Homo sapiens: one gene and its partner. The protein of the gene in region 2 purifies or fractionates together with the protein of the main gene of each other region. This does not show direct contact. Each region holds a gene or a part of one and is shown on either strand. Other genes may lie near its edges.

The links.
Region 1: the proteins of GNAT1 (region 2) and DNAJC6 purify together in Homo sapiens (affinity purification with mass spectrometry; 2 studies listed by BioGRID and IntAct, with this or other methods). This does not show direct contact.

What each region holds. Positions count from the first base shown.
Region 1 is NC_000001.11:65,307,338-65,311,084, forward strand, and holds the start of DNAJC6 (auxilin), read left to right. Parts: upstream 1-2,205; 5' UTR 2,206-2,408; coding exon 2,409-2,601; intron 2,602-3,747. UniProt on the Homo sapiens protein: May act as a protein phosphatase and/or a lipid phosphatase.
Region 2 is NC_000003.12:50,194,545-50,198,278, forward strand, and holds the end of GNAT1 (guanine nucleotide-binding protein G(t) subunit alpha-1), read left to right. Parts: coding exon 1-110; intron 111-220; coding exon 221-411; 3' UTR 412-412; intron 413-723; 3' UTR 724-3,152; downstream 3,153-3,734. UniProt on the Homo sapiens protein: Functions as a signal transducer for the rod photoreceptor RHO. Required for normal RHO-mediated light perception by the retina.

The DNA.
Region 1 (3,747 bases), on a different chromosome or scaffold from region 2:
GATAAAATTCTTATAGCCCATTCAGATTTTTCTTTACACTTGCAAACTCCAGAGATAGATATTGAAAAATACAAAGGCATATGTCTCATCTATAATTTCTTTCAGCAATATGTCTGCAAGTTGAGCAAAAATAACTGAAAGTGCTCTTTTTGAAAATAATAATTTTCACTTTTCAAAAATGATCCTGTATTTATTTATTTATTTTTTGAGACAGGGTCTCAGTCTGTCACTGAGGCTGGTTCTAAATTCTATTAATCCAATGATTATAGTCCAGCATTTGTCAGGGCACATGATGAACACTAGGTATTTACTGTCCCTGTGTGTCTGTAATGAATTAAAAGAAAAAGTACAGAGAAAGATTATTTAAGATGTTATGGGAAAAGATTTACTAGACTTCACAGAATTATTACTTTAGTCAAGTAACTAAAATAATTCAATCTGACAGATTTGGAAAATTGAAAGTATAAAAATTTGTTTTAAAATTTTTATTGCAGTTTTTCCTGCCACCATTCAGATTGTTTGATCTTGTTATAAATGAGCATTAACTCTGATTTGCAATTCAGGTCACACCATACCTCATCAAAGAATGCAGTTGGGAAAGCAACTGGCCAGGAAGTTTAGGTTTCCCCAGAAGGACTGGAAGGATTTAGAAAACATTTCTTTGGACTTCTTCTGGTTGATGCTCTTCCTACAAGAATCTGTGTTTGGGTGATCCTTGTACAGGAAAATGTCTCTTAGTCCAATTTATTTTATGTAGAACTGTGTAGAGCTAGAGCTTCCCGGAAACTTTCTGAGACCCAAATCATCTGGACTGAAGTCTCTTAGATGCTATTGTTTGATTTTGTGTCCTTAGGTGATTGATATAAGGACAGCAAGAGAAAACCATGTAAGATGAGAAGAAAGCAAAGCTGGCTTTGTGTATGGGCTCAAGTACATTTTACATGCACGTACTTTTTTCCTGTTTTGGTGAGGAAACTCTGTCAAATGACTCTTGACGGGCGCCTCACTTAGTCCCTCCAAGTTTTAGTAGAGAAAATGATAATTTTTAACCAAGACTTACTTGATCTTGACCTAAGATGATGAGAATGAGCAATCCTTCTGAAATCTTATTATTTTAGGTGAAAATAAACATTCGATAATTACATTTTAAGACTTACCAGAGTTTATCCAGGTTTTGTTCAGATCCAGAACTTATACAATGTCGGAGTCTTCTTTTAAGAATACACGATGACAGATACAAAATTAGGTACACAGCTTAATTAACTTCATGATAAATTCTCTTCTGATTATGAGTTACTGCTTTCTTTGGCCAGAATTGTGAAAGAAAAATAAGGCGTGAGGCTAGAGGATGGGGAAAAAAAATCCTTGTCTATCTTGCTTCCCAAGCAGGCCTTCAAGCTAGCTAACTGAAACAGTCTTTTCTCCAGGTCCTAAGGTAAATGGTGGCGGATCTGAAAATGCGTCGGACTTAACCTTGCCCTTCTCCCCAGTTTATTCGCTCAACAAAGAGTTCTAAACAGTCACATCTGCTCTCTAGGCAGAACGGACGCTGCCTCCTAGTATTAGAATACCCAACTCTTTGATATCTCCCTTAGGGATCATCCCTATTCTGGAGAATGTGCAAAATATTGCTCTTCCTTTATATCCTAGCATAGATATATTCTGGCACTTAACATGCATTCTTTTTCTGTTGAATTGAGTTACAAGTCAGTTCTCTAGGACGGTTACCGTCCTGGTGGCTTTGGCGGAATCTTCCGGTGAAAATAGGCTAAGTTGCATGAAATGGGTGTGTCTGGATTTTACCACAAGACCCCTGGTCCTCAAAGCTTCGCAGGCCGAGATACCTCGCCCCTTTCTTCTCTGTCACACGCGTGCGAACACACCCTCCCAACCCACGTCGTAGTAGTCCCCTCCCCCGACCACCCCGCCCCGTTTCCCTTCAACCCCCCTCCTCACGAACCTCCCCTCCCTTCCTACCTCCCTTTCCTTCCCTCCCCGCGGGCCAGCGGCTTTGGCGCTGCCCTGCTGCGCGGCGGGGCGACGCGGCGACACCTATAGGATTGCTTCCGGGCACTCCTCAGCCAGGAGGTGCTGGCCTGGGGCCCGGAGCTCGGCAGGGCCGGGCGGCTCCGCGGCGTTGGCCCAGAGGACGCGCGCCCCCGCCCGGCCGCGTCTCCTTCCCTCCCTCCCTCCTCCCGGCGCCCCGAGCCGAGCTCAGCCCAGGGCGGCGGCTTCGCCTCGCCCGGCGAAGCTTCTCTCCGGTGGCCGCTCCTTCTTTTCCCTCCTCTTTGCGTCATGTCGGGCACTTAATTTTTTTTTTTTTTTAATTCCTTCTTCAGCCCTTTCCACCTTCCATCTCCCTTTTCGCTTCCCAGGTTGATTATTTTCTCTTTTCTCCGGGCTTGCCCATGAGCCTCCTCGGGAGCTACCGGAAAAAGACCAGCAACGATGGTTATGAATCTTTGCAGCTGGTGGACAGTAACGGGGACTTAAGTGCGGGAAGCGGCGGGGTTGGCGGCAAGCAGAGAGTGAACGCCGGGGCAGCGGCGCGGAGTCCCGCCCGACAGCCTCCGGACCGCGCCAGCACCATGGACAGCTCAGGTAGCGCTGCCCGAGGGGAGTGCAGCGCTGAGCCCCGCGCGGCCTCCGGAGCCTCCCAGTCGCCCGGCCCGAGGCCCCCCCGTGGTCCCCCAGCCCCGGTTTGCGAGAGAGCCGGGCTGGAGGCGAAGGCTTCTAATACCACCTGGGTGTCGAGTCTCTAATTTCTCTCATCCAGGGAGCTACGAAACGTTAGATCAGTCCTGAGGCCCAGAGACTGTAGCGAGCTCCTCCTAATCTCTCTAGACTGCTGAATACGGCAGCTGGGGGCGGGGAGGGGGAGGGAAGGAGGAGGGGAGGGGTGGAGAAGAGAGGGGAGCGGGTGGGGCGAAGAACGGCTTGGGAGGAGGGCTGGGAGAGGCAGCTGCTTTCACTGCCCAGCTGGATGAGGGGGAGAGGTGAAGGAGCATGTGCGTTGATTGTTTTTGCAGCATGCAGACGGTATTTATTCCAATTGTTATTCTTGCAATGCTGATGCTATTTGCAATTCTGTAAAGCTCTGCCACATCTTAACTCAGCCGTCTGCTAGGGTTAATGTTACCTTTCTCCTGCAGTTTTTAACCTGGGATCTAGAGCTCTTTTACACAGCTTTTACTGTTTGCACAATGAAATTTATTTCATGTGTTGGCTTTGATCTTGTTTGTCCTTTTGCTTGAGTGTACAGATTTCATAAACCTTTACATGTAGGGACAAGGAAATTCCTCTAAACTTTGTATCGGGGCTTGCAACTGTCTTTTATAAAAGGTTTGGCAAGTTAGAGTCCTCTCTTGGAACTGCTGTTGGCATTTGCGATTTCAATAGCAAAACAGTCATTTAATATATCCATGTTGGACTAGGAGTATTATTATAGCTATTTGCTTACTTCTGCAGGGAACCAGGTTCGGAGAATTGTTTACAGAGATATTTATAATTGAAGTCCTCAGTGGTTGGTTCTACACTGGTAACTTTAATACTGGACAACTGAGGATTCCAGAGGAAAGATTCATATGGGGTCGTTTGAACAGTAATGAAATCAAACTGAATTTAAATGCCCTGCTTTGCAAACAAATGCTTGTTTATTTTAATTGTGTAATGGCTGTCCTTGGGCTATTATTTTCTATTTTCCTTGTCCCAAAGTGGGATGAAATATTGTCCACAGATGCTCAAATG
Region 2 (3,734 bases):
CCACCGCTACTTCGCCACGACGTCCATCGTGCTCTTCCTTAACAAGAAGGACGTCTTCTTCGAGAAGATCAAGAAGGCGCACCTCAGCATCTGTTTCCCGGACTACGATGGTGAGAAGTCCGCAAGGCCGCCAGGCGGCGCCCCCGCCCCACGATCGCGGCGCGCACCCCCCGCACGGGGAAGGAAGGGCTGAGCAGAGTGAGAGCTCCCGCCCCCGCAGGACCCAACACCTACGAGGACGCCGGCAACTACATCAAGGTGCAGTTCCTCGAGCTCAACATGCGGCGCGACGTGAAGGAGATCTATTCCCACATGACGTGCGCCACCGACACGCAGAACGTCAAATTTGTCTTCGACGCTGTCACCGACATCATCATCAAGGAGAACCTCAAAGACTGTGGCCTCTTCTGAGGTAGGTCGCTGCCCTCTCCAGGCTCTTGCCTCAATACCCCAGCCCCGTCCAGCTCCCCACCCCACACCACGGCCCTGGAGCCTCACCCCCAAATCCTGGAGCCTACTGCCTCCAGGCCCCACCCCAGCTCCTCAGGCTCCACCCCACCGACAGAGGCCCCGCCCCACCCCACAAGTCCCACCCATTGAATTTCTTTTGGCCCCGCCCCAAGACCTCAGGTGTCACAGCTTCCAGGGCCGCCCCACCACACACAATGCCTAAACCCATTTATTTTGGGTCTCAGGGATGCTGACTGGGTTTCCTTTTCACAGGTGCCTGAATTCATGCGTGTCAGTCACCCTGAGACCTGGTAGCCCTAGCTGCCTTGCAGCCCCAAACCCCAGGACCCTATCAGCCCCCTGGGACTCCCTGGCCCCAACCTGCCACCTCACCAAAGCTCTGAGCCCTGCTAGCCTTGAGGCGCGGACCCTCCCCCATACCTCCCACAGTATCCCAGCGCCTCATGCCCCCAACCCCAAGCCCTGCCCTTCACCGCCCGGCTGCACTGGCCTCTAGGACTCACAGCAGCCAGCCCCAGCTAGGAACGGGCAGGACTTGGGGCAGCTGAAGCTCACGGTGACTCAGCAGTGCCCAACTGACCAATCTCCCGCAGCTCTCCTGCCCCTGGGGGCCCACGACTCACCTGGTGGGCCTGGGCTCAGCAAACAGCCCTCCCTCCCAGTATTTCATCAAGGACAGGGAATATCCCTCCCACACACAGGCCAGCTGCTCACCCTGCCACCTCCATGTGACAAGTTTGACACCTGTCTACCCAGAGCCAGTGACTGTCCCTCCCAGCAGCCTCCAAAGGGTCCAAAGTCCAAGCTAGCTCTGGCCTGTGTGGCCCCCACATAAATAAATTAGTGGGGAGGGGGCAGACCTGGGGGCCCTTGGGTGCCAGAGTGAGACACAGCAGGACCCTTCCCCAAATACTAGGCTCAGAGCAACCTCCAGCCTTCTCCAGCAGGATCTGCTCCCTGTGTCCTTGGACAGCAGATCCACACACCACTTCCCCACCCACACACAGTACCCTGGGCTGGTTGGACAACAGGATGGTGTGTTAAGGGGTTAAGGGAGGGTACTGTTGACACCAGCTATGGCCAATAGCTGGGCTGTCCTGAGGGGTGGCTGGGGACAGAGTCCAGCTCCCTTGGATCAGCCCAGAGGATTCAGGATAGGACAAAGGCCCTGGCTGTGCCCAAAAGGGTCTACCTCAGGTGGGGTTACAAGCAAACCTGGGTGACCCTCTTGTCCCTACCAGCAGCTTCTCTTGCCCCTTCCATTCAGGGTTCCCTGGCAGGGGAAGCTGAGAGCCATGGCTGAACTATCAGGGACAAAGGCCCATGTCCCCACATCCCTGCTCCCTCCTTCCTCATCCAGCACCAAATCTTTGCTTATGTCCACAGGCCAGGGCCTGTGCTGCAGTCGGGGACAAGGAGCTTCCGTCTGGCAAGGCCGGGGCACAATTTGCACTCCCCTCAGCTAGACGCACAGACTCAGCAATAAACCTTTGCATCAGGCTCCAGCTGTCCTTTCTTGGTGGAGGACTTAATTATCACAAGTCATGGGCATTTATTAAGTGCCCAGTGCTGGGTTGGGCATGAAGTGGGAAGATGGCCCCTCCCAGGAAGAAGTACCTGGCCTGACAAGGTGGGGCACTCTTGGGGGTATGGGACCAACTCATGGCTTTTCACGGGAGTTGAGGAGAGAGGAGCTGTGGAAAATATTCACTGGGACAGTCTTGGATCAAGAGGGAGTTTTGAGGTGGAGGCTCATTCTGGCAGGGACCGTAGTGTCTACCAGCCCCAGAAACATGGGCTTATGGCCACAGGAGTTCAGTGGAGCAAGAGCAGGGGAGGAGAGACGTGGACAGGTGCCCAAAGCCAGTCGGAGGGCCTGGGCTTTCTCAGAAGGTGATGGAGAGTCTTGGAAGCCCTCGAGGCAGGAACATAATTGCAGGGCTGGGATTAGGGTGAGGGAAGTGAGGCACACTCACCTTGGGTGCAACATTTAAGGCGATGCCAAAAAATTTAGTAACCAAGGTAAATAATATTAGGATAATATTTTTAAAAATCAAATGAATGCAAAACCCCACAATGAATGAAATATCAAAATCCAACAGAGGATCAAACAGAGGCATGCTAAGATATATTGGGGCTTGAAGCAAAGGGAAAACTATTTGTTGCTATATGTTTGTAGGGATTTTTTGCCAGTTTTAAAAATACATGTATCATAAAGTTTACTATCTCAGCCACTTGCCGGTGTATAGTTTGGTGGTGTTAAGTACATTCATAATGTTGTACAACCACCGCAACTGTTCATCTCCAGAACTCCTTTCCTCTTGTAAAACTGTAACTCTGTACCCATGAAAAAATAACCCCCCATTCCTGCCTTCCCCCGGCTCCTGGCATCCACCATTCTACTTTCCATCTCTATGAATGTGACTGCTCTAAGTGCCTCAGATGTGTGGGTCCATGAAGTCTTTGTCTTTTTGCAACTGGCTTATTTCACTTAGCATCATGTCTTCAAGGTTTATTCATGTGTAGCATATGGCAGAATCTCCTTCCTTTTTAAGGTTGAATAATATTCCATTGTATATATTCCACACTTTGTTTATTTATTCATCTATTGATGAATGGTTACATCTGCCTTTTGGCTATTGTGAATAATGCTGCTATGAACATGGGTGTACAAATCTCTCTCCCAGCCTCTGTTTTTTATTATTTTGGGTGTATACCCAGAAATGGAACTGGCAAATCATATGGTGAATCTTTTTTTTTTTTTTTTTTTTTTGAGACAGAGTCTCTCTCTGTCGCCAGCCTGGAGTGCAGCGGCACAATTTCGGCTCCCTGCAACCTCCGCCTCCCAGGTTCAAGCAATTATCCTGCCTCAGTCTCCTGAGTAGCTGGGACTACAGGCACACGCCACCATGCCCAACTAATTTTTGTGTTTTTAGTAGAGACGGGGTTTCACCATGTTGTCCAGGATGGTCTCGATCTATCTCTTGATCTCAGGTGATCTGCCCACCTCGGCCTCCCAGAGTGCTGGGATTACAGGCGTGAGCCACTGCAACCGGCCTCATATGGTGAATCTATTTTTATTTTATTTATTTATTTATTTATTTATTTTGAGACGAAGTTTTGCTCTTGTTGCCCAGGCTGGAGTGGCAATGGCATGATCTCGGCTCACTGCAACCTCCTCCTTCCATGTTCAAGTGATTCTGCCTCAGCCTCCCAAGCAGCTAGGATTACAGGCATGTGCCACCACACCTGGCTAATTTTGT